Linked DNA regions of Homo sapiens: region 2 is linked to region 1. Evidence: fine-mapped expression QTL. A gene starts in region 1. The other region holds a variant in brackets. All regions are shown on one strand. Distances are from middle to middle. Region 1 holds the start of RHOF (ras homolog family member F, filopodia associated). Region 2 overlaps HPD (4-hydroxyphenylpyruvate dioxygenase).

The links. PIP is the estimated chance that this variant, and not a neighbour inherited with it, causes the effect. A credible set is the group of variants that fine-mapping cannot tell apart.
Region 2: its variant is the best candidate, but not a certain one, in a credible set for the expression of RHOF in platelets (CEDAR, PIP 0.82).

What each region holds. Positions count from the first base shown.
Region 1 is chr12:121,788,715-121,799,550 of GRCh38, reverse strand. It overlaps RHOF (ras homolog family member F, filopodia associated), which reads left to right and starts at 5,863. Exons shown (of 5, transcript NM_019034.3): 1 at 5,863-6,055; 2 at 6,312-6,399. The coding sequence starts at 5,918. LINC01089 (long intergenic non-protein coding RNA 1089) reads left to right here. Exons shown (of 4, transcript NR_152740.1): 4 at 3,309-4,284. It also overlaps a transcript of SETD1B not described here. RefSeq lists enhancers at 1,091-1,632, 3,869-4,038, 4,334-4,874, 5,419-5,468, 5,415-5,955 and 7 more and a silencer at 5,949-6,488.
Region 2 is chr12:121,833,207-121,844,042 of GRCh38, reverse strand. It overlaps HPD (4-hydroxyphenylpyruvate dioxygenase), which reads left to right. Exons shown (of 14, transcript NM_002150.3): 12 at 211-333; 13 at 3,995-4,111; 14 at 4,205-4,516. The coding sequence ends at 4,315. Among named protein-coding and RNA genes, the nearest start is that of TIALD, 18 kb to the left of the region's middle. RefSeq lists enhancers at 3,184-3,853, 4,525-5,195 and a silencer at 4,363-4,562. The variant A/TA (reference allele first, on the strand shown) is at 5,968.

The DNA.
Region 1 (10,836 bases):
GGGCCCTGGGTGCCGCCTACTTCTGAAAGACACAGGTCACTGTCAGAAAGCCCAACTGTGCTGTGGCCTTCCCTCCAGCCGCCCCCGTGGGGCATGTGGGGTGACAGTGTGAGCCGTCCTCTGATGTCTGGCTGCTAGAGAGGCAAAGAACAGAGACCCGAGGTTCCGGCCACCTTTCTCTATGAAAGGGCCTTCCTTGACGCTTCTCCACCTTCCTGGGATTGTTTTCTTCTCCAGTCCCCGAATGGGCAGGCCTGTATATAAGCCTTGTTTCTAGAACCAGACAAAGCTGGATTTGAAACCTGGCGAGCCATTGAACAGCTATGGCCTTGCGTAAGCGGTATAGCCTCCAAGCCTATTTCTCCATCTCCGAAAACAGGGCTAGATCAGTGGTTCTTAGTCTGGAACCGGCATCAGAATCACACCGGAAGGGGGGCTCACTGAAAATGGACCACCGGGCCTGGTGCCCAAGTGTCTGATTCAGTGGGTTGGTCCTTAGGACTGGCATTTCTAACAAGTTCCCAGGTGAGGTGAGGCTGATGCTGTGGTCTGGGAACACATTTTGAGACTCCAGCCCCTAGCCTGGTAACACCTGGGGTTTTGACGCAGAAGTGCCACGTTCCACGCTTGGCACATAGTAATTGATTTCATTCTAACGCTAGCCGACTTCATGTATTGAATAGTTTCCCATCTCAGTGTCTAAGAAGCTCCACAGCTGGAGATGGCGGCCCTTGGTCTCGGAGCCCCCCTCCTTGTGATTTCTGCTTTGTGATTGCTTTGATGAACCATTTGGGTCCAGGTGCTCCTGATCACACCACCTCCCCTATTTGGGACTTGTGCCCCACTCCCGCTGTGAGGGCTACACCGAGCTCTGGGGGCCTGTTCGGATTAACAAGGAGATCTTGCTAAAGGTATCTTGGTGCTAAGTTAAGGGAGATAGTTCGCCATGGGCTAGGATCTCTCAGTGCTGGTGACCTTGGGTGAGTGTCTCCCTGTAAAGTGATAAGGATGCCTGCTGGAAAGGGTGGTGGGAGGATTAAGTGCGTTAAAGAGGCCCTCCTCCCAAGCTTTTAGTTGGCCTCCATTGTGATCGTGGTTATTGCTGGGAGTGGCTGCAGGGGGTGGGGGCTGGGCTGCCTCAGAGCTTCCCCCCGCACCAGCCCACCTGCTGAAGCACGTGTCCCTGCCTCAGGGCAAAGGGGAATCTGGCGCTCCCTGGGAAGGCGGCCAACGCGGTTCTCCTCTGGAGTGGTTGAGTCCAGCTGCAGGCCTTTCCCCATCCACAGGGGCTGTTCCATGATGGGGTCAAGATTTGGGTCACCCACCCATGGTCCGGGGAGAAGTGACTCCCCAAGGTCACAAGGCCACCACCAATAGAGCCAGGATGGGGTTCCAGGTGGCTTGACTTGGCAGCCAGCGCCTGTGCCCATGGCACCCCCTCACCCCAGCTGTCTGGGTTATTTTGGGCTTCCTCCCGTGCCAGCTGTCTGCTGGCATCCCTGCCCGGGACTGTCTGGTTGGAAGTAACTGGCGTGGTGCTGTTGGCTCCTCCTGTGAGGGCCAGGGCTGGGTCTTCAATCCCCGATGAGCCGTGCTGGGTCCAGCTCCTTTGCTGGGAGGGAAGAGTGTTCCTGCCCAGACTCCCCGCTGCCCAAGTACAGCAAGAGGGCGAAAGCACCTGATAAAAATTGAGGTTCACATTGTTAATATCCCAAAAGCCTCCTCCTTCTATACTCCCTGAAACCTGTTTTAAATTTGGCTCTGCCATTGAACCCCGTTGCTCTCACGTTACCCTCTGCCGCCCGAGGGTGTGGCGCCTCCCTTTAGAGTCTTCGTTGCTCTCCGGGTGGGGTCTTTACTCCCCACCTGCTTTGGATAATTAAGTAATTGATGTACGTCTCCCTCCCAGCTGCACCCTGGAGGGCTCCAGCCAGTTTCTCCCCTCCCTGGATCCAATCAGTGAGCTGTTGGGTGCTCAGCTGTGGTCTGGATGTGGTTCTCGGCACGGTGTCGGGACCCACCTGGCTGGACTGTACCCCTCTCTCTCTGCTTTGGTCCCTCTTCTTTCTTTGTCCCCCCACCATCACCTCTTGGGGCAGGGAGGGTGAGGCAGTTTGTCCTCCTGCTGCTGTTCCTGCTGGTCCCTCGAGGGCGCCCCGCCCACCGGTCACCCAGCGAACGCGGGGCGGGGCCGCTGCTGGCGCTGGGCCCCAGGGCTTGCAGAGAGAGGGCCACGCCAGCGGAAGGGCCGGCCAGGAGGTGGCAGGACTTGCCTTACTACTGAGTCGCCGGCATCCCCGCCTCTTCCGGCCTCTCCGCCCGGAGCCCTAGCGTGGAACATGACCTTTCGGACCCTCTGGGTGGAGACACAGCCTCTGCCTGGGCTGTGCAGTGAGGTGGCACCACCATCTCAGGTCGTCTGGCCCAGTGCATCTGTAGCTGGCATGTGACTTCCAGCAAGCTCCTGCCCCTGAGCGCTGGGAGGAGCAGGTCCAGCAATAATTTTTTTTTTTTTTTTTTTGAGACAGAGTTTCGCTCTTGTTGCCCAGGCAATGGTGTGATCTGGGCTCACCGCAACCTCCGCCTCCAGGGTTCAAGCGATTCTCCTGCCTCAGCCTCCGAGTAGCTGGGATTACAGGCATGTGCCACCACGCCCGGATAATTTTGTATTTTTAGTAGAGACAGGGTTTCTCCATGTTGGTCAGGCTGGTCTCAAACTGACCTCAGGTGATCCGCCCACCTCGGCCTCCCAAAGTGCTGGGATTACAGGCATGAGCCACCGCGCCTGGCCGGACAATAATGTTTTGAGCTGTTGCTGAGTCTGGCTTTTGTGACGGGAACTTTTAGCACTCAAGGAGTGGCCTTGTCTCTGGCCTGTCCCCGAGTGCTCATGGGCAGCCAAGGCCTGGGGACTGCTCAGGCAGGGTAGATGTATTTGCCAGGCCAGCTCCCGTCCCTGGGACCTCAGGGAGTAGCTTCATCCCTGAAGGCTGAGTGTCTTCTGCCTCATGTGGGTGGCCCCTCTGCAGGGTTCTCAGGCATCCAGGGAAGTGGGTGCCACAGCGTTGCCTCCAGCCTCACTGGGGCTGGCTGGACTTTGCTCTGACAACACAGCAGTGGCTGGGCCCCTGCAACTCTCCAGGGCTCAGTTTCCCTGTTGGCCGCACTATGGCATAGGCCCCTGTGTGGACACCGATGAGCTGACCCCACAAATGCCACCCGGCCGCTCCCCCAGGCTTCAGTGGCCTAACAGCTGTTGTGTCAGGAACCAGCTTAAAGAATCTTTCTTGCTTTCTCAAACTCTCCAGGAATTCCTGGTGACTGGAAGGGGGAGTGACTCAGGCCCTCAACCTCTAGCAGGTAAGGGAGCTACCTCCTGGGTGGGCATGCCCAGTTCCTCAGTGGGCCCAGCGCGGCCCAGCCTCCGAGGAAGCTCTGAGCAGCTGGCTTGGCTCCGAGGTATTTTTAGCTACAGATCCAGCCCCCCTCCATCACCACAACAGTCGAGTCCAAATCAAACGCGCTCCAGGCAGGTGGGGCTGGGGTTCTGCCAGCCTCCTGGCCAGCAGGGGTGGGTGGGCAGACTGGGGCCAGTATCAGCTGTTCTGCCTGGACCCAGGCCGGGCTGGGAAGGCACACTTGTGCTTATTTCCCGCCTCCACTTCTGTGCAAGCTTGTGCTGTCATAAGCAGAGATCACAGCCCCATTTCTTGGATGGAGAAAGTGGACACTGAGGTCTGAGGCTTTTGAGGACAGTCAGGAGCCCTCCTATGGGCTCCAGTGATGCACTCACCAGCTTCTGGTCCTCTTCTTCCACCTCTTAGAGTGCCTTGGCTCCCTCCTGTCGTCCTGGGGAACCTCGGCCCCAGCCCTGCCTCCCCAGCCAGTCACAGCTCCTCCCTGGTCACCCTGAGGGAGCTCAGGGCCCGGCTGGTAGCTGGGTTGCTCTGCTTCTGTCCCCCACTCCTGTGGAGCCTGGCAGGCAACTCCATGATCTGACCCCGGTTACCTTGACAGCCCTGCCTGGCCTCCCCTCTCATGGCCCAGCCACCCCAGAACCTGAAGAGGTTTTCTAGCTGCCGTGCATTTGCCAGGCTGGGTTACCCACCCTACTTTCCCTGCCTGCCCTCCAGTGCTGCCAGGCCTAGTGTGCCAGCCAGCGCTCAGCCTTCAGTAAAGGGTTCCCCTGCTTCCAACCTCCATTGCACTGCTTCCCCTAAGACTGTGACCTCCTGGAAGGCTGGAGCACAACTGCCTCTCAATAAACGTGTTGCAAAAAAGGAATGGATGAGTTGCTGTGCATTTGTCTAGGGGGTGCTTGACCCAGGAGATTACCCTTTGCCCAGTGCCTGAAGAGGGCGTCCACTGAGAACCTGGGGTGCCTCCCCGGCCTCCCCTTCCCAGCTCTGCTGTGGTCTTGGGATTCTGTGGGCGGTCGCTGCTGCCCTCTGGTGGTCAGACCGTGCCTTGCTTGCACTGTGAGAACCTTGACCATGGAACTGCCAGGTTGGCGGTTTTCCTCCACGAAGTGAGGTTTACATGACCCTTGCCGAGACCTTGAAAACTGGGAGTCTTCGGGGTGGGGTCGCCAGCAAAAAGATCCTGAGTCCTGCCAGCCCCTATCTGAGGAAACTACGAAGGCCACTTGCCCCCAACCATGCTGCTGTTGGGGGTTTTGTTAGAAATGGGCTCTTCCTACCCCAGCTGGTAGGATCCCACTCTCGGCCATGCTCTCGTGCCTGTCTGCCGTGGACCGGCTCCAGGGGGGGGTCCCTCTGCCACCCTGTCGACTCATCTGGGTGGTGCAGAGGGCAGTCAGCCCGCCCAGGGTGAGGAGTAAGAGGAGGGGTGGGGGTTACGGGTAATTCAGCCAGCAGCCCTGATAGCACTGCCTACAGTAAGTGCTCAACAAATAAGCTGTTTTGATCAGGGGATGGGAGAGTTGGGGGGATTCCTGGGATGAAGGACATGTGGCTGCTGGCAAGGAAACGCATTTTCTTACATTTCTTGGTGGGTGTGGGGTTATCAGTCTCCAAAGCTCCAGGAGAGGGACCAAGTTGACTTCAACTAGAGCTACTCCAACCTGCCCCTCCCTGACGACGTCTTGCGTGGTTCACGCCTCTGGCTCCTGCCGGAAGGAGGCGGCCGCCCCTAGTGGTTTCGGGCCAACCTGCGCCCGGAGCGGCCGGCGCCGAGGCGATTGCCCGGCAGAGGGCGTCAGACGTCCACCCTGCAGCCCAGGGTCGGGGTGCGGGTAAGCGGAGCCCAGTCCCTCACCCCGAACCCGCGTGCACGCTGGCGTCCCTGGCCCAGGCGAGGTGGGCAGACATGACTCTCGCGTCAGCATCTTCCCTGGTGCCACCGCCGCTACCTCCTGTGGGGAAGCTGAGGCCAGAGGCGGACATGTGCCAAGCCACACCGCTGGGGCAGTGCAAAGTTGAGGGGCTCTTCCCGGAGCTGGAGGCCGGGGGCTTCTCGAACCCGGTGCGGAGGCACAGCCAGCCAATCCGGGAGACCCTGTCTGGCCGCGCCAGCCAATCAGAGGGTCCCTGCCGAAGGCGGAGCCTGCTAATCAGGGGCACCTGGAGTCGCTGGGCAGCCACGATCGGGTCTCGCCGGCGAGGGGCGCGACGTGACGCGCGGAGGGTGGCGGTGGGTTGGGGGTGGGAGCTTTGCTCGCAGCTGAGCCCCGTTTTTCCGGTGCTGCAGTATCCCTGGGACTGAGAGCTGAATACCCACACCCAGGGCTGAGACCTTAGCAGAAAGGAAACTGAGGCTGGGAGGTCGGCCGGGAGGCTGCCTGGCGGAGGCGGCGCTGCTCCGAGTGGGCGGGGCTGGTTCCGGCCCCGCCCCGCCCCCGACCTCTTGGCTCCGCTAGTGCCCGGCGCGCCGCCGCCAGTGCTGCGGGCTCCGGGCAATGGATGCCCCCGGGGCCCTGGCCCAGACCGCCGCCCCCGGTCCGGGCAGGAAGGAGCTGAAGATCGTGATCGTGGGCGACGGCGGCTGCGGCAAGACCTCGCTGCTCATGGTGTACAGCCAGGGCTCCTTCCCCGAGGTGAGGCCCGCAGCGGGGCTGGGGTGGGGGCGAGGGACGCCCCTTACCCTGAGCCCAGAGCCCCGACCCTCAGTCCCCAGCGTCCCGAGCACGGACAGGCGGCCGCCACCCCGGGGCGCCCCCTCGGGAATTCCAGAGCCCAGCGGGGTGAGGGGGGGCTGATCCGGGACGAGTGAGGGGGGTGGACAGTGGATTCAGCTGGAACTTTGGCCCCCGCCGGCCCCACTAAGGACCAACCCGACCCCCTCTCCCGCAGCACTACGCCCCATCGGTGTTCGAGAAGTACACGGCCAGCGTGACCGTTGGCAGCAAGGAGGTGACCCTGAACCTCTACGACACGGCCGGTGAGTGCGCCTGCGCGCCGGGGGGCCCGAGGGTCCGCCCGCCCGAAGGGTTTCCCCTCCCGGGCGTCCCCCACTGGGTGTCCCCGCCCTGCAGCCTTGGCAGGGCCTTGGCCGGCTCTTCACTCCTGGAGGCCGCTCAGGGGCGCTGGCTGCGGGGCCCTAGAGGCCAAGCCCTATACGTAAGTGGAAGGTGTTTGGAGGAGGAGGTGAACTCTGGGGCCACCCTCCCAGCTCTGTGCTGAGAGCCCACAGCTCGTTCCTCTCCTGTGGTTCTAGAAAGCAGTGGGCTGCTCTTGGGCCTCCCATGGTTCCAGGATTGCTGCGCTACCTGCTGTGGTCTCTGCAGACTCTGTGAGCTGCAGATTTGAGTCCCTTGGTGCTCGGATTGCCTGGGCTGTGTGTCTGGGTCCTGTGGTTCTGGGATGCTCCCGGCTGCAGATCAGCCTGTGGCTCCAGGGCTCTGTGGCCTGCGCTCTGCAGCCTGAGGCTCTGGGGTCCTGTGGATGCGAGTTCTGTGTCTGCAGCTCCCAGGATTCCACGGCTTGCAGTTGGTGGTTCTGGAATTGCGTGGCTACAATTACTTCTGTGCTTTCCTAGTTCCCTGGGACAAAACCAGACAGTGTAGAAAATGAACTGAGGAAGGAACAGAGCACTGGGGGCAGGGGCCCCACACCAGGCTCTGCCTGCCACCTGCAGGCCCCCACGGGTGGTTTACGGATTTATGTGCAATTGCTTGGGAGTCGGTGTTGTGAGGGGTGGGGACAGGAGAAACAGTCAGTGGGAGGACCCTGACTCCCATCTGGGCTTCATCAACATTGGGGACCAAAGGTTGAGATCCCCAGGTGGGGCCTCACCCCACCTCTGTGACTCAGTGTTTAGTGACCTGCAGGGAACCACGTCATCCGGTGGCCCTCTCCGGCCAGCCAAGCCTTGTGTGTGTGAGGTGAGGTCAGACACTGACCTAGGATGGAGCCAAAATCCAGACACCTCCACCCCCACCTAGACCTTGGAGAGGACCCGAAAAGGGGCTGTCCTAGCTCAGAGCCCCCCTCCATTCCGACTTCAGCAGGTCCTATCGTGGCCTCTGAGGAACCTGTCTTTGTGGGATGTGGGCCCTGTAGGGCCAACCCCAAAACAGCGCCTGTCTCTAGCCCCTGGTGAGCTGGGAGAGCTGAGGCATCAGAGGAATTCCCGGGGCGTGGCCCGGGGGTAGTAAAAGTCATGGTCTGGGACACCTTTACTCTCATGTTTCCTGTGCAGTAGCCAGGGAGGGGCAAGGTCATTGACCCACTTTTTGAGTCAAGTGCTGCTGGGTGGAGACATTCACAGCAACCCACTGCCCTGCAAGAGGTCAGGAGGTTTTTTCTTTCCTCCTCCTCTGCCATCAGGGCCTCCCCTATCAGGTCCCGGGGTTCACTGTTCAGGGCAGCCTCCACATCATAAGAACAGGGATGGCCTTTCTGGCCTTGCCCAGAGAGAGATGCTCAAGGAACATGTCAGAGTAGATTGAGTTGTGGAGATTCTGGAAAGCTGCAAGTTGCTGTAGGAAGAATTTGTGCTAAGAGCTGCTACCAGAGGGATGGAGGAGCATCCCCTGCTACAGTCACCAGAAGCAGGCGACCACTGGCACCATGGGGATCCCATCCATGGTCCCATCCTGTTCCTGCCATCCTCTTTGGAGTCAGATCTGGGCTTTGACCCCAGCTCTATTGGCTACGTATCATTGGGGATGTCTGGGCCTCAGTTTCCTGATCTGTCATGAGCACTAAGAGGGTCATGAGGATTAAATCAGATTAATATATGATGTCCACCAGCCTGCCCAACATGGTGAAACCCCATCTCTACTAAAAATCCAAAAATTAGCTGGGTGTGGTGGTGGGCACCTGTAATCCCAGCTACTCGGGAGGCTGAGGCAGGAGAATCGTTTGAACCCGGGAGGCAGAGGTTGCAGTGAGCCGAGATTGTGCCATTGCAGTCCAGCCTGGGTGACAGGGCGAGACTACATCTCCCAGCACTTTGGGAGGCTGAGGCAGGAGGATTGCTTGAAGCCAGGAGTTCAAGACCAGCCTGGGCAACATGATGAAACCCCGTCTCTACTAAAAGTATAAAAATTAGCCAGGCGTGTTGGCACATACCTATAGTCCCAGCTACTCGGAAGGCTGAGGCAGGAGAATTGCTTGAACCCAGGAGGCGGAAATTGCAGTGAGTCAAGATCACGCTACTGCACTCCAGCCTGGGCAACAGAGCGAGACCCTGTTTCAAAAAATAAAAATTAAAAAAAATTAAAAAGATCCTCCTACCATCCCTGCCCAGCCCTAGCTCAAGCCTGTGCTTTGGAATCTACGGTGCCATGCCCCAAGCTGACCCCCAGACCCTGCTGCAGCGGGGAGATCTATCTTCCCTGGCAAGTCTCTTCCAAGCAGCAGAGAAGCAGGGCTCAGGGGAGGTGGCTAGCCTCACAGTCTGACAGACCCCAAGGAGGGGCACCCAGGGAGAAGAGATCTGGCTGCTCCCTGTAGGGTATCCCCCCGTGACCAGGGAAGGCTTGCTCATAGGAGGAAATCCCCTGGTCAGTGAGTGCCACCAGGGAGAGCCCAGGTCCCAGTGCTTGTCATGGAGCAAGGCCTGGAAGGTGATGGAATGAATGGGTAGTGGATCCGAATGCCGGAGATGATTCATCTCGGCCTGCAGGTGGACGGCTCTCAGGAGAACAGGACAGAAAGCCATGGCCAGGCGGCCACGTAGAGAGAGGCAAAGGCCAAGAGGGTGAGGGAATGGCCAAGCCAGAAATGAGTCTAGTAAACGTAGTTGTAGAAAGTTCTAGAACCCAATGGGCCACACACAGTGGCGGAAGGGGCATCTTCCCGACTGGTGGCCACCAGAGCTGTGAGACAGGGGTGGCTCTCAGAGGCTGAATTTCTCCACACCCAGGACCAAACGCTGGTCCTGGGCAGGGGCCGGACGCTGCCCACAGGGGCCCTCGTGGAAGGCCCGTGTGGCTGTCTCCCTCCTGAGGAAGTAGTTACAGACACCACAGCGGAGGGAGGGCAGATCGGGTGACGGGGCTCGCAGGGCTCAGAAGGGAAGGGGCGGGGGCCATGGCACTCACTGCTCTGTCGGCCTCACCGGGGCCCTGACATCCTCTGAGGCAGGAAGCTGCGGTGAAGTCTGAAGTTTCCTGGGCCGGGGGAGGCGGGGTGAGGTGGGCTGTGAAGACACAGACGGGAGAGTGAGCTCATCAGGGCCAAGGTGTGGGGTCCAGGGTTAGAGGGGCACAGGATGGGATAGGGGTTGCCCGGGGAGCGGTGGTCCCCTTTTCAGCCTGAGATGGGAACAGAAAGAAAATTGTTAGGCAATGGAGTAGGATTTGCTAAGACAAGGAACCAGGGACAGATGTGTGTTGTGAGCCCCAGAAGCACCGGAGGCCTGGGCTGAGACAAGGCTGGGGTCACCCAGAAGGTGGTCTCAACTCCCAGCTGGGGCTGCCCAGCCCCTGTCTCCCTGGGAAAGCACAGGTGGGCGGCCCCCAGCAGAGTGAGTAAAAGTGGGTTCCTCTTCTGGCAGCTTCACTTCTCATGCTGCCAGTACCCCTCCCTGACCAACGCCGCAGCTGGAGCTGGGGTCCACCCGCCCTGTGTGTCCTCCTGCAGATTTGAGGTCTTTTTTCCTCAACTCTGCTCTGGGCCTTAGAGACCCCTGTCCCTGGAAGCAGGACTTCCTTGGCAAAGCCTCATCCCACCAAGAAAATAGCCCTGTGTGCGGCATGAGCCTCCCTTCCGCCCAGCCCTGCCGCACCGCCTGAGTGCACGTCAGGACGATGGGCGGCTCTAGGGGGAGCCCAGGCCTAGAGACTTCCTCACCAGAAGCACGTGCATCCTTTGCATGTAATTCCTGGGTTTTTTTTTGAGGTGGGGAATGGTTAGAGACAGGGTCTCGCTCTGTCACCCAGGCTGGAGTGCCATAGCATGATCATAACTCATTGCAGCCACAGCCTCTTGGGCTCAAGTGATCCTCCCATGTCAGCCTCCCAAAGTGCTGGGATTACAGGTGTGAGCCACCACGCCTGGTCTACCTGGGCTGTTTTAACCTCTAAGCCCATCTGCAGAGGCTGGATGGGCCCCCTCTGTGACTACGGGCAGGTGACATGGACCCTTTCAGCCCTGGTATCATTTTAGGTAGAATGTGGAGGGTAATGGTATCACCTGGTGGCTGGGAGGCCCCTGAAGCTTCTGGGTCCAAAGATTCTGGGGTTCTGACCACCCACCATGCCAGGCTATTAACTTCTCCTGGAAGTTTCAACAGTAACCACAATAGCAGTCCTCCTGCCTCCCGGCACTGCCCCCCACTCCACCCCTGCCCCTGCACTGCTCCCGCTCTAAGCATTGCCTCCCTTCTCCTGGGCTTTCACCTTCCAGATTAGGGGGAGGGTTATCACTG
Region 2 (10,836 bases), 44 kb before region 1:
GCAGGCACATGGTGAGTGTTCTATAAATCTAGCAGTTGTTGTTCTAACGGGGCCCATGACAGAGAAGAAAGGGGAAGAGGCCACACAGCATCCTGGCAGTTGAGGGGAGCTAGGATAGGGACCCTGTATCCTGATGACCCAGCACCTCCACCTGGCTAGGGGAGTTGAACTTGGAGGCCGAAGGCTGACCTCAGCTTTGCTCTGAAACAGATTCGCCACTTGAGAGAGAGAGGCCTGGAGTTCTTATCTGTTCCCTCCACGTACTACAAACAACTGCGGGAGAAGCTGAAGACGGCCAAGATCAAGGTGAAGGAGAACATTGATGCCCTGGAGGTGAGGCCCAGGCAGGATCCGCAGCCTTGTGGGGGGAGTATGAGCTCTGCATTGCATCTTTTCAGAAATATTGTCTCAGCCCGGAGGGGAGCCCAGACCAAGTCCCTGCTGGCAAAGGACATTTATTCTAGGGTCTATGTGGGAGGAGGAGACAGATGACAAACAAATAAACAATAAAAGCACGGTCAGAGATAGTCAGTGCAGGAAGTTCAAACAGGCAGCCTGGGGCTGCTTTACAGAGACTGGTCAGGGAGGGCCTCTCTGAGGAGGTGACATCTGAGTGAAGTCTAGATCATGAGCGGGAGCTGGCCATGTGAACAGCGGGAAGAAAGGCATTCCTGGCAGAGGGATCAGCAAGGGCCGAGGTAGGAGCATGCCCTGAGCGTCTGAGGAACAGAAAGAATAGGCTAGAGTGGATGGGAGGCTGTTTTTGAGCGATGACCTAGGTCAGACAGGTAAGCAAGAGCCAGTTCCTCTTGTGAGCTATTATTCAGGAATCTGGATTTTGTTCTTTTGTGACCAGAAACCACTGGAGGGTTTTTTGGTTTGGTTTTAGCAGTGTTATTGACATATGTCACATAACATGTCATTTTTTTAAGGTGTACAATTCTATGATTTCTAGCTATTTGCTATGTTGTGCAACTATCATCAAAATCCATTTTAGGACTGGGTGTGGTGGTTCATGCTTGTAATCTCAGTACTTTGGGAGGCCGAGGCGGGCGGATCATGAGGTCAGGAGTTCGAGACCAGCCTGACCAACATGGTGAAACCCTGCCTCTACTAAAAATACAAAAATTAGCCAGGCGTGGTGACACATGCCTGTAATCCCAGCTACTCAGGAGGCTGAGGCAGGAGAATCACTTGAACCCGGGAGGCGGAGGTTGCAGTGAGCCGAGATTGCGCTACTACATTCCAGCCTGGGCGACACAGTGAGACTCTGTCTCAAAAAAAAAAAAAAAAAAAAAAAAGATCCATTTTAGGACTAGGTATGGTGGTTCATGCCTGTAATCCCAGCACTTTGGGAGGCCAAGGCAGGTGGATCACTTGAGGTCAGGAGTTTGAGACCAGCCTGGTCAATATGGCGAAACCCCCATCTCTACAAAAAGAAAAAAAAAAATTAGCTGTGCGTGGTGATCTGTGTCTGTGGTCCCAGCTACTGGGGAGGCTGAAGTGGGAGAATCACTTCAACCCAGGAGGTAGAGGCTACAGTGAGCCATCATCAGGCCACTGCACTCCAGCCTGGGTGATACCCTGTCTAAAAGAAAAACAAAAACAGTTAGGCCAGACACAGTGGCTCACACCTATAATCCCAGCATTTTGGGAGGTTGAAGTGAGAGGATTGCTTGAGGCCAGGAGTTTAAGACCAGCCTGAGAAACACAGGGCGACCCTGTATCTACAAAAAAAACAGTTTTAAAAAATTAGCTGGGCATGGTGGTTCGTGCCTGTAGTCCCAGCTACTCAGGAGGCTGAGGTGAGAGGATCACTTGAGGCCAGGAGGTCAAAGCTGCAGTGAGCCATGATCAGGCTACTGCATTCCAGCCTGGGCAAAAAATCAATTTTAGAACATTTTTGTCACCCCAAAAAGAAACCTTGAGCCTCTTAGCCAGCACCTCCCAACCCCCTCTGTTCCCTTCCCCCCTCCCACCCCAGCCCTAGGCACCATTAATCTACCTTCAGTCTCTATAGATTTGCCTATTCTGGACATTTCATCAAAAGGAATCACAAAGTCCAGGCACGGTGGCTCATGCCTGTAATCCCAGCACTTTGGGAGGCTGAGGTGGGCGGATCATGAGGTCAGGAGTTCAAGACCAGCCTGGCCAACATGGTGAAACCCTGTCTCTACTAAAAATACAAAAATTAGCTGGGTGTGATAGCAGATGCCTGTAATCCCAGCTACTGGGGAGCCTGAGGCCGGAGAATTGCTTGAACCCAGGGAAGGGGAGGTTGCAGTGAGCCGAGATCGCGCCATTGCACTCCAGCCTGGGCGACAGAGTGAAACTCCATCTCGGAAAAAAAAAAAAAGGAATCACAAAATAGGCCTATTGTGAGCAGCTTCTTTCCCATAGCATGTGCTCAAGGTTCATCTGCGTGGGGTGTGTGTCAGTGCTTCGTTCCTTTTTGTGGCTGAAAAATATCCCATTGTATAGATAGACACACATTGTTTATCTATTCCTCGTTGATAGATATTTGGGTTGTTTCCACTTTTGGGGTGTTATACGTAATGCTACTGTGAACATCTATGTACAAGGCTCTGTGTGGACGTGTTTTCAATGCACTTTGGAATATATCTAGGAGTAGCTAGGTCACATGGTAATTCCATGTTCCCTTTTGTTTGTTTAGAGATGGAGTCTTGCTTTGTTTCCCAGGCTGGGGTGCAGTGGTGCGATCTTGGCCCATTGCAACCTCCAGCCTCCTGGGTTCAAGCAATTCTCCTGCCTCAGCCTCCCCAGTAGCTGGGATTATAGGCGCCCGCCACCACGCCCAGCTAATTTTTTTTTTTTTTTTTTTGAGACAGAGTCTTGCTCTGTTGCCCAGGCTGGAGAGCAGTGGCCGATCTTGGCTCACTGCAACCTCCACTTCCCGGGTTCAAGCGATTCTCCTGCCTCTGCCTCCTGAGTAGCTGGGATAACAGGCGTGTGCCACCATGCCCAGCCAATTTATTTTTATTTTTATTTTTAGTAGAGATGGGGTTTCACCATGTTGGCCAGGCTGGTCTCGAACTCCTGACCTCGGGTGATTCACTCACCTCAGCCTCCCAGAGTGCTGGGATTACAGGCGTGAGCCACCTTGCCCAGCCTAATTTTTGTATTTTTTTTTGTAGTGACTGGGTTTCCCCATGTTGGCCAGGCTGGTCTCGAACTGAGCTCAGGTGATCCACCTGCCTCGGCCTCCCAAAGTGAGCCACCATGCCTGGCCACCCCCTTTTTTTTTTTTAATCCGTATTTTAAGGAAGCAACACTATATGTTTAACTTTTTGAGAAGCTGCCAGACTGTTTTCCAAAGTGGTTGCACCATTTTACAGTCCCACCAGCAGTACATGAGGGTTCCGATTTCCACTGGAGGATTTTAAACAGGGGAATGACATGATCCGACTTTTAAAAGATCCCGCAGCAGGTCATGGTGGCTCACGCCTGTAATCCCAACACTTTGGGAGGTCGAGGTGGGTGGATCACCTGAGGTCAGGAGTTCGAGACCAGCCTGACCAATATCGTGAAACCCCGTCTTACTAAAAATACAAAAATTAGCCGGGCATGGTAGCCTGCGCCTGTAGTCCCAGCTACTCGGGAGGCTGAGACAGGAGAATCGCTTGAACCCGGAAGGCGGAGGTTTCAGTGAGCCAAGATTGCGCCACCGCACTCCAGCCTGGGTAACAGCGCAAGGCTCCGTCTCAAAAAAGAAAAAGAAAGTGTCCTGATAATGTCTGCGGGGAGGATGGATTGTAAGGATACAAGATTAGAAGCGGGCAGCAGTCTTGAATGGTGCCTTAGGAACTGTAGTAGGGGGATAGTAATAGGACAGTTTGGGGATATATTTGGAGGTGGCTGAACTGCCAGAAAAAGAGGTCATTTCCAGACTTTTGGGGTGCAGGAGCCCCTGTGGACTTTCCAAGGATCTCACCGTGCCAGCCTCCCCTAGCAGAGCCCCCTGTCTCCCGCCTAGGAGCTGAAAATCCTGGTGGACTACGACGAGAAAGGCTACCTCCTGCAGATCTTCACCAAACCGGTGCAGGACCGGCCCACGCTCTTCCTGGAAGTCATCCAGCGCCACAACCACCAGGTACTGCTTGTCCCCGGCAGGCCCGAGGGGACAGGCAGCTAGCACACTCGGTTTTCTGGGTCCTTGGCTCATCTCCTCTCTTTCCCGCCACAGGGTTTTGGAGCCGGCAACTTCAACTCACTGTTCAAGGCTTTCGAGGAGGAGCAGAACCTGCGGGGTAACCTCACCAACATGGAGACCAATGGGGTGGTGCCCGGCATGTAAGCCCCGCCCACCCCACGGAGGCCACAGCCACACAGCCACGCCCCCTGATTCTGGAACTCGCCCAACTTCCCTACTGGCTGCTCCCCTTGGGTCCCGCCCACCAGCGGACTCGGCCCCCAAGGCTCCGCCCACACTGACCACGCCCCTCGGCGGGGCCGCCCTCTGCTCCAGCCCTCCCGATTAAAGCGTGCCCCGGTCCAATACTGTGTCTGTGTTTGTGTTGCGCATAAGGCAGTAGTGCCTTATGGCAGCCAGGGGGAGGCCAGGGCGGCCGCCAGCGCCGCGGGACCGAGGAGCTGCGGGTGCCAGCGCTTTGCCAGCGGGACCACGCGGAGAGGGGAATTCTGGAACCAGGGAAGGAAGGGGACTTGCTCTGGAGGGAAAGACGGATGACACTGCTTTTGTAGAGAGATAAACGCGATTCAGACAATAAAGCAAGCGATGAGCCGGGCGTGGTGGCTCACACCTGTAATTTCAGCGCTTTGGGAGGCAGAGGTGGGAGGATCGCTTGAGGCCAGGAGTTCGAGCCCAGCCCGGTAACATAGCAAGACCCCGACCCCCCTGCGTCTACACAAATAACAAATAAAAATTAGCCTGGCGTAGTGGCGCACACCTGTGGTCCCAGCTACTCAGGAGGCTGAGGTGGGAGGATCGATTGATGGACAGAGGTCTAAGCTGCAGCGAGCCCTGATCCTGACACTGCACTCCAGCCTGGGCAAGAGTGAGACCCTGTCTCAAAAAAAAAAAAGGCAGTTGATGAGAATATGTGGAAGCGAAGATCGCAGGGGAGCTAATTTTGATAACGGAAGACCTCTCCGAGAAGGTGACATTTGGGAGCCAGCCATGGGACCATGCTCGGGAAAAGGATTCCAGGAAGAGCGAACGGAGAAAGGCCCTGAGGTGGGGTCAGAGTTTGGCAGCATCTTGTCTGCCGGCTTGATGATCTCTTTTTGTTGTTGTTGAGACGGAGTTTCGCTCTGTCCCCCAGGCTGGAGTGCAGTGGTGCGATCTCGGCTCACTGCAAGCTCCGCCTCCCGGGTTCACGCCATTCTCCTGCCTCAGCCTCCCGAGTAGCTGGGACTACAGGCGCCCGCCACCACGCCCGGCTAATTTTTTGTATTTTTAGCAGAGACGGAGTTTCACCTTGTTAGCCAGGATGGTCTCGGCCTCCCAAAGTGCTGGGATTACAGGCGTGAGCCACCGCGCCCGGCCGATGATCTCTAAAGATGAGCTGTCTTCAGTTTTGCTACCCAGAGCCCAAACCTCTGAACACAGGAGAGGGGAGAGTGTTAGACAAGGGACTCTAGGGGCAGCATCCCTGCTCATCAACTGTAGGATATGGTCCCTTGGTTCCTGGTCTCAGAGATAAAGCAGGTAGGAGGGGCCTGGTATCCCAGTCCCTGCCCTCAGCAGGGCAGTGCCCATGACCACCCACGCAGCTGCACTGCCCCAGCCTTGCCCGCAGTGAGGACTTCTTTTGGAAAGGGGCTTGTTCATACTCATAGAAGAGTGAGTGATCCTTGCAAAAGAATGAGGCAGCTGGGTCCTAAAACCCTAGGAAGGAGATTCTTTCTTCAAAACCAGGTAAGAGTTGGTGGTGGGCAAATTTGGCCTCTTTTTTTTTTCTTTTTCTCTCTTTTTTTTTTTTTTTT[A/TA]GACAGAGTCTCACTCCATTGCTCAGGCTGGAGTGCAGTGGTGTGCTCTTGGCTTACTGCAACCTCCACCTTCTGAGCTCAGGTGATCCTCCTACCTCAGCCTCCCAAGTAGCTGGGACTATAGGCATGTGCCACCACGCCCAGCTAATTTTGTTTTTATTTTTCATGGAGATGGGATCTCACTATGTTGGCCAGTCTCGAATTCCTGGTCTCAGGTGATCCGCCCACCTCAGCCTTCCAAAGTGCTGGAATTATAGGAATGAGCCACTGTCTCTGGCCTCTTTCTGCTTCTAATGCTTGAGAACCCTCCGTGAGGATAAGTCAACTCAGAGCTAGGAGGCAGCAGAGCTCAATAGAAGAAAAAAATACTCTGAGTTGGTATAATGGTGGGAATTGGGGATTTTTTTCAGATTATAGAAGAAATCAGAGCTTCTGGGATCACGAACTTCAGAAATAAAGAGATCAGAGAGAACCCAAAGGATTCCGTGCAAAAAAAATACTCCCCCTCTATTCTCCTGTGACTTAATGTGAAGAAGGGAAATTGTATAACCCAGAAGGATGCAAACTAGTGGCTTACAGACCAAATGTGGCTCATAGACCTACTTCGTTTTGCCTGCATGGTTTCAAACAAATTTGAGTCAACATTTTAGAAAGTTGGGCACATATGGCCAGGTGCGGTAGCTCATGCCTGTAATCCCAGCACTTTGGGAGGCTGAGGCAGGTGGATCACTTGAGGTCAGGAGTTAGAGACCAGCCTGCCCAACAGGGTGAAACCTCGCCTCTACTAAAAATACAAAAATTAGCCGGGAATGGAGGAGGGTGCCTGTAATCCCAGCTACTCGGGAGGCTGAGGCAGGAGAATCCTTTGAACCTGGGAAGTGGAGCTTGCAGTGAGCCGAGATCACGCCTCTGCACTCTAGCCTGGGTGGCAGAGTGAGACTCCATCTCAAAAATAAATATTGGGAGGTCAAGGTGGGTGGATCACCTGAGGTCGGGAGTTCAAGACCAGCCTGGCCAACATGGTGAAACCCCATCTCTATTAAAAATACAAAATTAGCTGGGCCTGGTGGTGCGCACCTGTAATCCCAGCTACTCGGGAGGCTGAGGCAGGAGAATCACTCGAACCCAGGAGGCAGAGGTTGCAGTGAGATCGCACCACTGCACTCCAGCCTGGGCAAAAAGAGCGAAACTCCATCTCATAAATACATAAATAAATAAATAAAGCATGCAGAGCAGACACCCACTAGCTGAGAACATACTAGAGAGCCAGGCTGCCTGAGTTCACCTCTCAGATAGCCACGTGGTAGCTGTGTGACCTATGGCAAGCTACTTGACCTCTCAGTGCTTCAGTTTCCTATGTTAAGTGGGAATTATAATAATACCCTCCTCCTAGCCCTGTTGCTAGTATCAAAGACGTTTAAAACAGAGGCTGGCACAGTCAATGCTATATGAATAGTCTTATTTTGGGGGGAGGGGCTCTTGCCCACAAGGGAACCCAAGTCTGTCTGGGACCTCCCTCTCTCTGTCTGAGGTCTCTGTCACCAAGGCTGGAGAGCAGTGGCATGATCACAGTTCACTGCAGCCTTGATCTCCCCAGTTTCAGCGATCCTCCTACCTCAGCCTCCCTAATAGCTGGGACCATAGGCATATGCCACCACGCCTGGCTAATTTTTGTATTTTTAGTAGAGACAGGGTTTCTCCATGTTTCCCAGGCTGGCCTCAAACTCCTGGCCTCAAGTGATCCTTTCTCCTGCCTCAGCCTCCTGAGAAGCTGGAGAGGGGCTCCCATTTTGGCCCCCACAATACAATAGAGGCAATGAAGAAAGGAGTTATCTCTTGGGACTGAGGAGCAGAGGAAGAGGTGGATGGATTTGAGGAATAGGGAAGAAGCATCAGATTTGGTAGGTAAGGGAGGGAAAGAGAAGGTTTAAATCCAGGATCCCTGGCCTTTGAGCTTAGGTGGTCAGTGGCAGGCAGCGGTGGGTGGAGGCAGAGAACAGAAGTGTCATTGACCAAAGTAGAAAATATGACAGGAGAGCAAGTTCAAGAGAGAAGATGAAGACAGGCGCAGTGGCTCGTACCTATAATCCTGGCACTTTGGGAGGCCGAGGCCAGAGGATTGCTTGAGCCCAGGAGTTCAAGACCAGCTTGGGAAACATAGTGAGACCCTATTTCTATAAAAATTTAAAAATTGGCCGGATACAGGTGGCTCACACCTGTAATCCCAGCACTTTGAAAGGCTGAGGCGGGAAGATTACTTGAGGTTAGGCATTTGAGACCAGCCTGGCCAACATGGTGAAACCCCGTCTCTACTAAAAATACAAACATTAGCCGGGCATGATGGCACATGCCTGTAATCCCAGCTACTCAGGAGGCTGAGGCAGGAGAATATCCTGAACCCAGGAGGCGGAGGTTGCAGTAACCGAGATTGCGCCACTGCACTCCAGCCTGGGCGACAGAGTGAGACTCTGTCTCAATAAAATAAATAAAATAAAAAATAGAGATAGGGTTTCGTCTCTTCTAATAATAAAAAAACTAGCTGGGTATGGTGGTGCGCAGCTATAGTCCCAGCTACTCAGGAGGCTGAGGCATGAGAATCCCTTGAACCTGGGAACCTGGGAGGCAGAGGTTGCAGTGAGCCGAGACCATACCATTGCACTCCAGCCTGGGCAACAGAGAGAGACTGCCTCAAAAAAAAAAAAAAAGAAAGAAAAAAAGGCCGGGCACGGTGGCTCATGTCTAGAATCCCAGCACTTTGGGAGGCCAAGGCGGGCGGATCACTTGAGGTCAGGAGTTGGAGACCAGCCTGGCCAGCATGGTGAAACTCCATCTCTACTAAAAATACAAAAAACTTAGCCGGGCATGGTGGCACATGCCCGTAGTCCCAGCTACCCGGGAGGCTGAGGTGGGAGAATGGCTTGAACCCAGAAGGCAGAAGTTGCAGTGAGCCAAGATTGCACCACTGCACTCAAGCCTGGGTGACAGAGCAAGACTCTGTCTCAACAACAACAACAACAAAAAAAAAAAAAAAGAAAAAAAAAGAAAAAAGAAAGAAAGAAAGAAAGAAAGAAAGAAAGAAAGAAAGAAAAGAAAGAAAGAAAAAGCCCTGGCGCGGTGGCTTACACCTATAATCCCAGCACTTTGGGAGGCCGAGGAGGGCACATCCCCTGAGGTCAGGAGTTCGAGACCAGCATGCTTAACATGGAGAAATCCCATCTCTACTAAAAATACAAAATTAGCTGGGCTTGGTGGCACATGCCTGTAATCCTAGTAATCCCTGTAATCCCTACTCAGGAAGCTGAGGCAGGAGAATTGCTTGAACTCGGCAGGTGGAGGTTGCAGTGAGCCGAGATTGTACCATTGCACTCTAGCCTGGGCAACAAGAGCAAAACTCTGTCTCAAGAAAAAAAAAAAGAAAAGAAATTTTTAAAATTAGCTGGTATGGTAAAGTGTGCCTATGGCCCTGATCAGCTTAGGAGGTTGAAGTGGGGGGATCATTGAGCTCAGCAGATCGAGGCTGCAGTGAGCTATGATCATGCCACTGCACTCCAGCCTGGGTGACAGAACTAGACCTTGTCTCTAAAATAAATAATAAAGGTAAAATTGTATATTCCTTCAGCTACACCCCCTTCTCTTAGCTTTATTCCTCCTTACTATTGCACTTACTTTTCACATTTGTCTGGCTCGCCCTCAAGAACAGTATGTTTCCTTCATTCCTATCCCCAGAGCCTAGAAGAGTACCTGGCACATACAAGGTGCTCAATAAATATTGGTTGATTGAATTAATGGCCAGACACTTCCTTCTCTTTCCTGGCTCAGCCCGGACCTCAGCCCTCTATTCCCATGAATCCACTTACGGGAGTGTCCACCTGTCTGGATGCACAATTCCTAAAAGCAGCCCACTGTGAACGGACAATTTACTCTCCCTTCGTTTCGTTGATACCAGAAATGAGGCTGCGAAGAACACTCTTCTTCATATTGTTGCCCACTGTATCTGTCAGGCTCAATTCCTCACAGTGGAACAACGGAGCCAAGACTTTTGTGTGCATTTGATCATTTTATTTTGAGACGAGGTCTCACTCTGTCGCCCAGGCTGGAGTGCAGTGGCATGATCTCGGCTCCCTGCAACCTCCACCTTCTGGGTTCAAGCGATTCTCCCACCTCAGCCTCCCAAGTATCTGGGATTACAGGCGTGCACCACCACACTCGGCTAATTTTTTTGTATTTTTAATAGAGATGGGGTTTTACCATGTTGGCTAGGCTAGCTCGAACTCCTGACCTCAGGTGATCTGCCCTCCTAGGCCTCCCAAAGTGCTGGGATCACAGGCGTGAGCCACCGTGCCGGCCGTGTGCATTTTAAATAATGATTACTAATAGGTATTTTTCCTCCTAAAGGTTGCAGTGATTTTTGGCTTCCCCTAATGACACACGAGAGTACCCCAGCCTCCTGCTCCCTCAAATTGGGTTTCCTCCACCTTTTAATATTTGCCAACCTGACAGGGGGAAACGGCATCCTGGGATAATTCACATTTCTCCAGTAGGAAGTGACGTACAGCGTCTTTTCAGGCATATTGCTTTTTGCTAAGGTTTTACGTCTTCTTGGAGACATTTACCGTGGACGCCAACTATAAGCCCTTTATCACCCGTCTACTGGGTCAAGCAGAGCTGAGACTGACTGGGGCACAGCATCTCTGAAATGCCATGAATACAGGATAGATTTAATTCTTCTCAACTTCTACTATTTTATCAGCCCTTTTTCCTCCCTCAAATGCAGACCAGGGGGGCATCTCCTTAAGTGTTAAACATTTCTGAGGAACCACCTACGTTCTTCTAGTGATAGTAAAAGGATACCTGATCTTATTTCCTTCA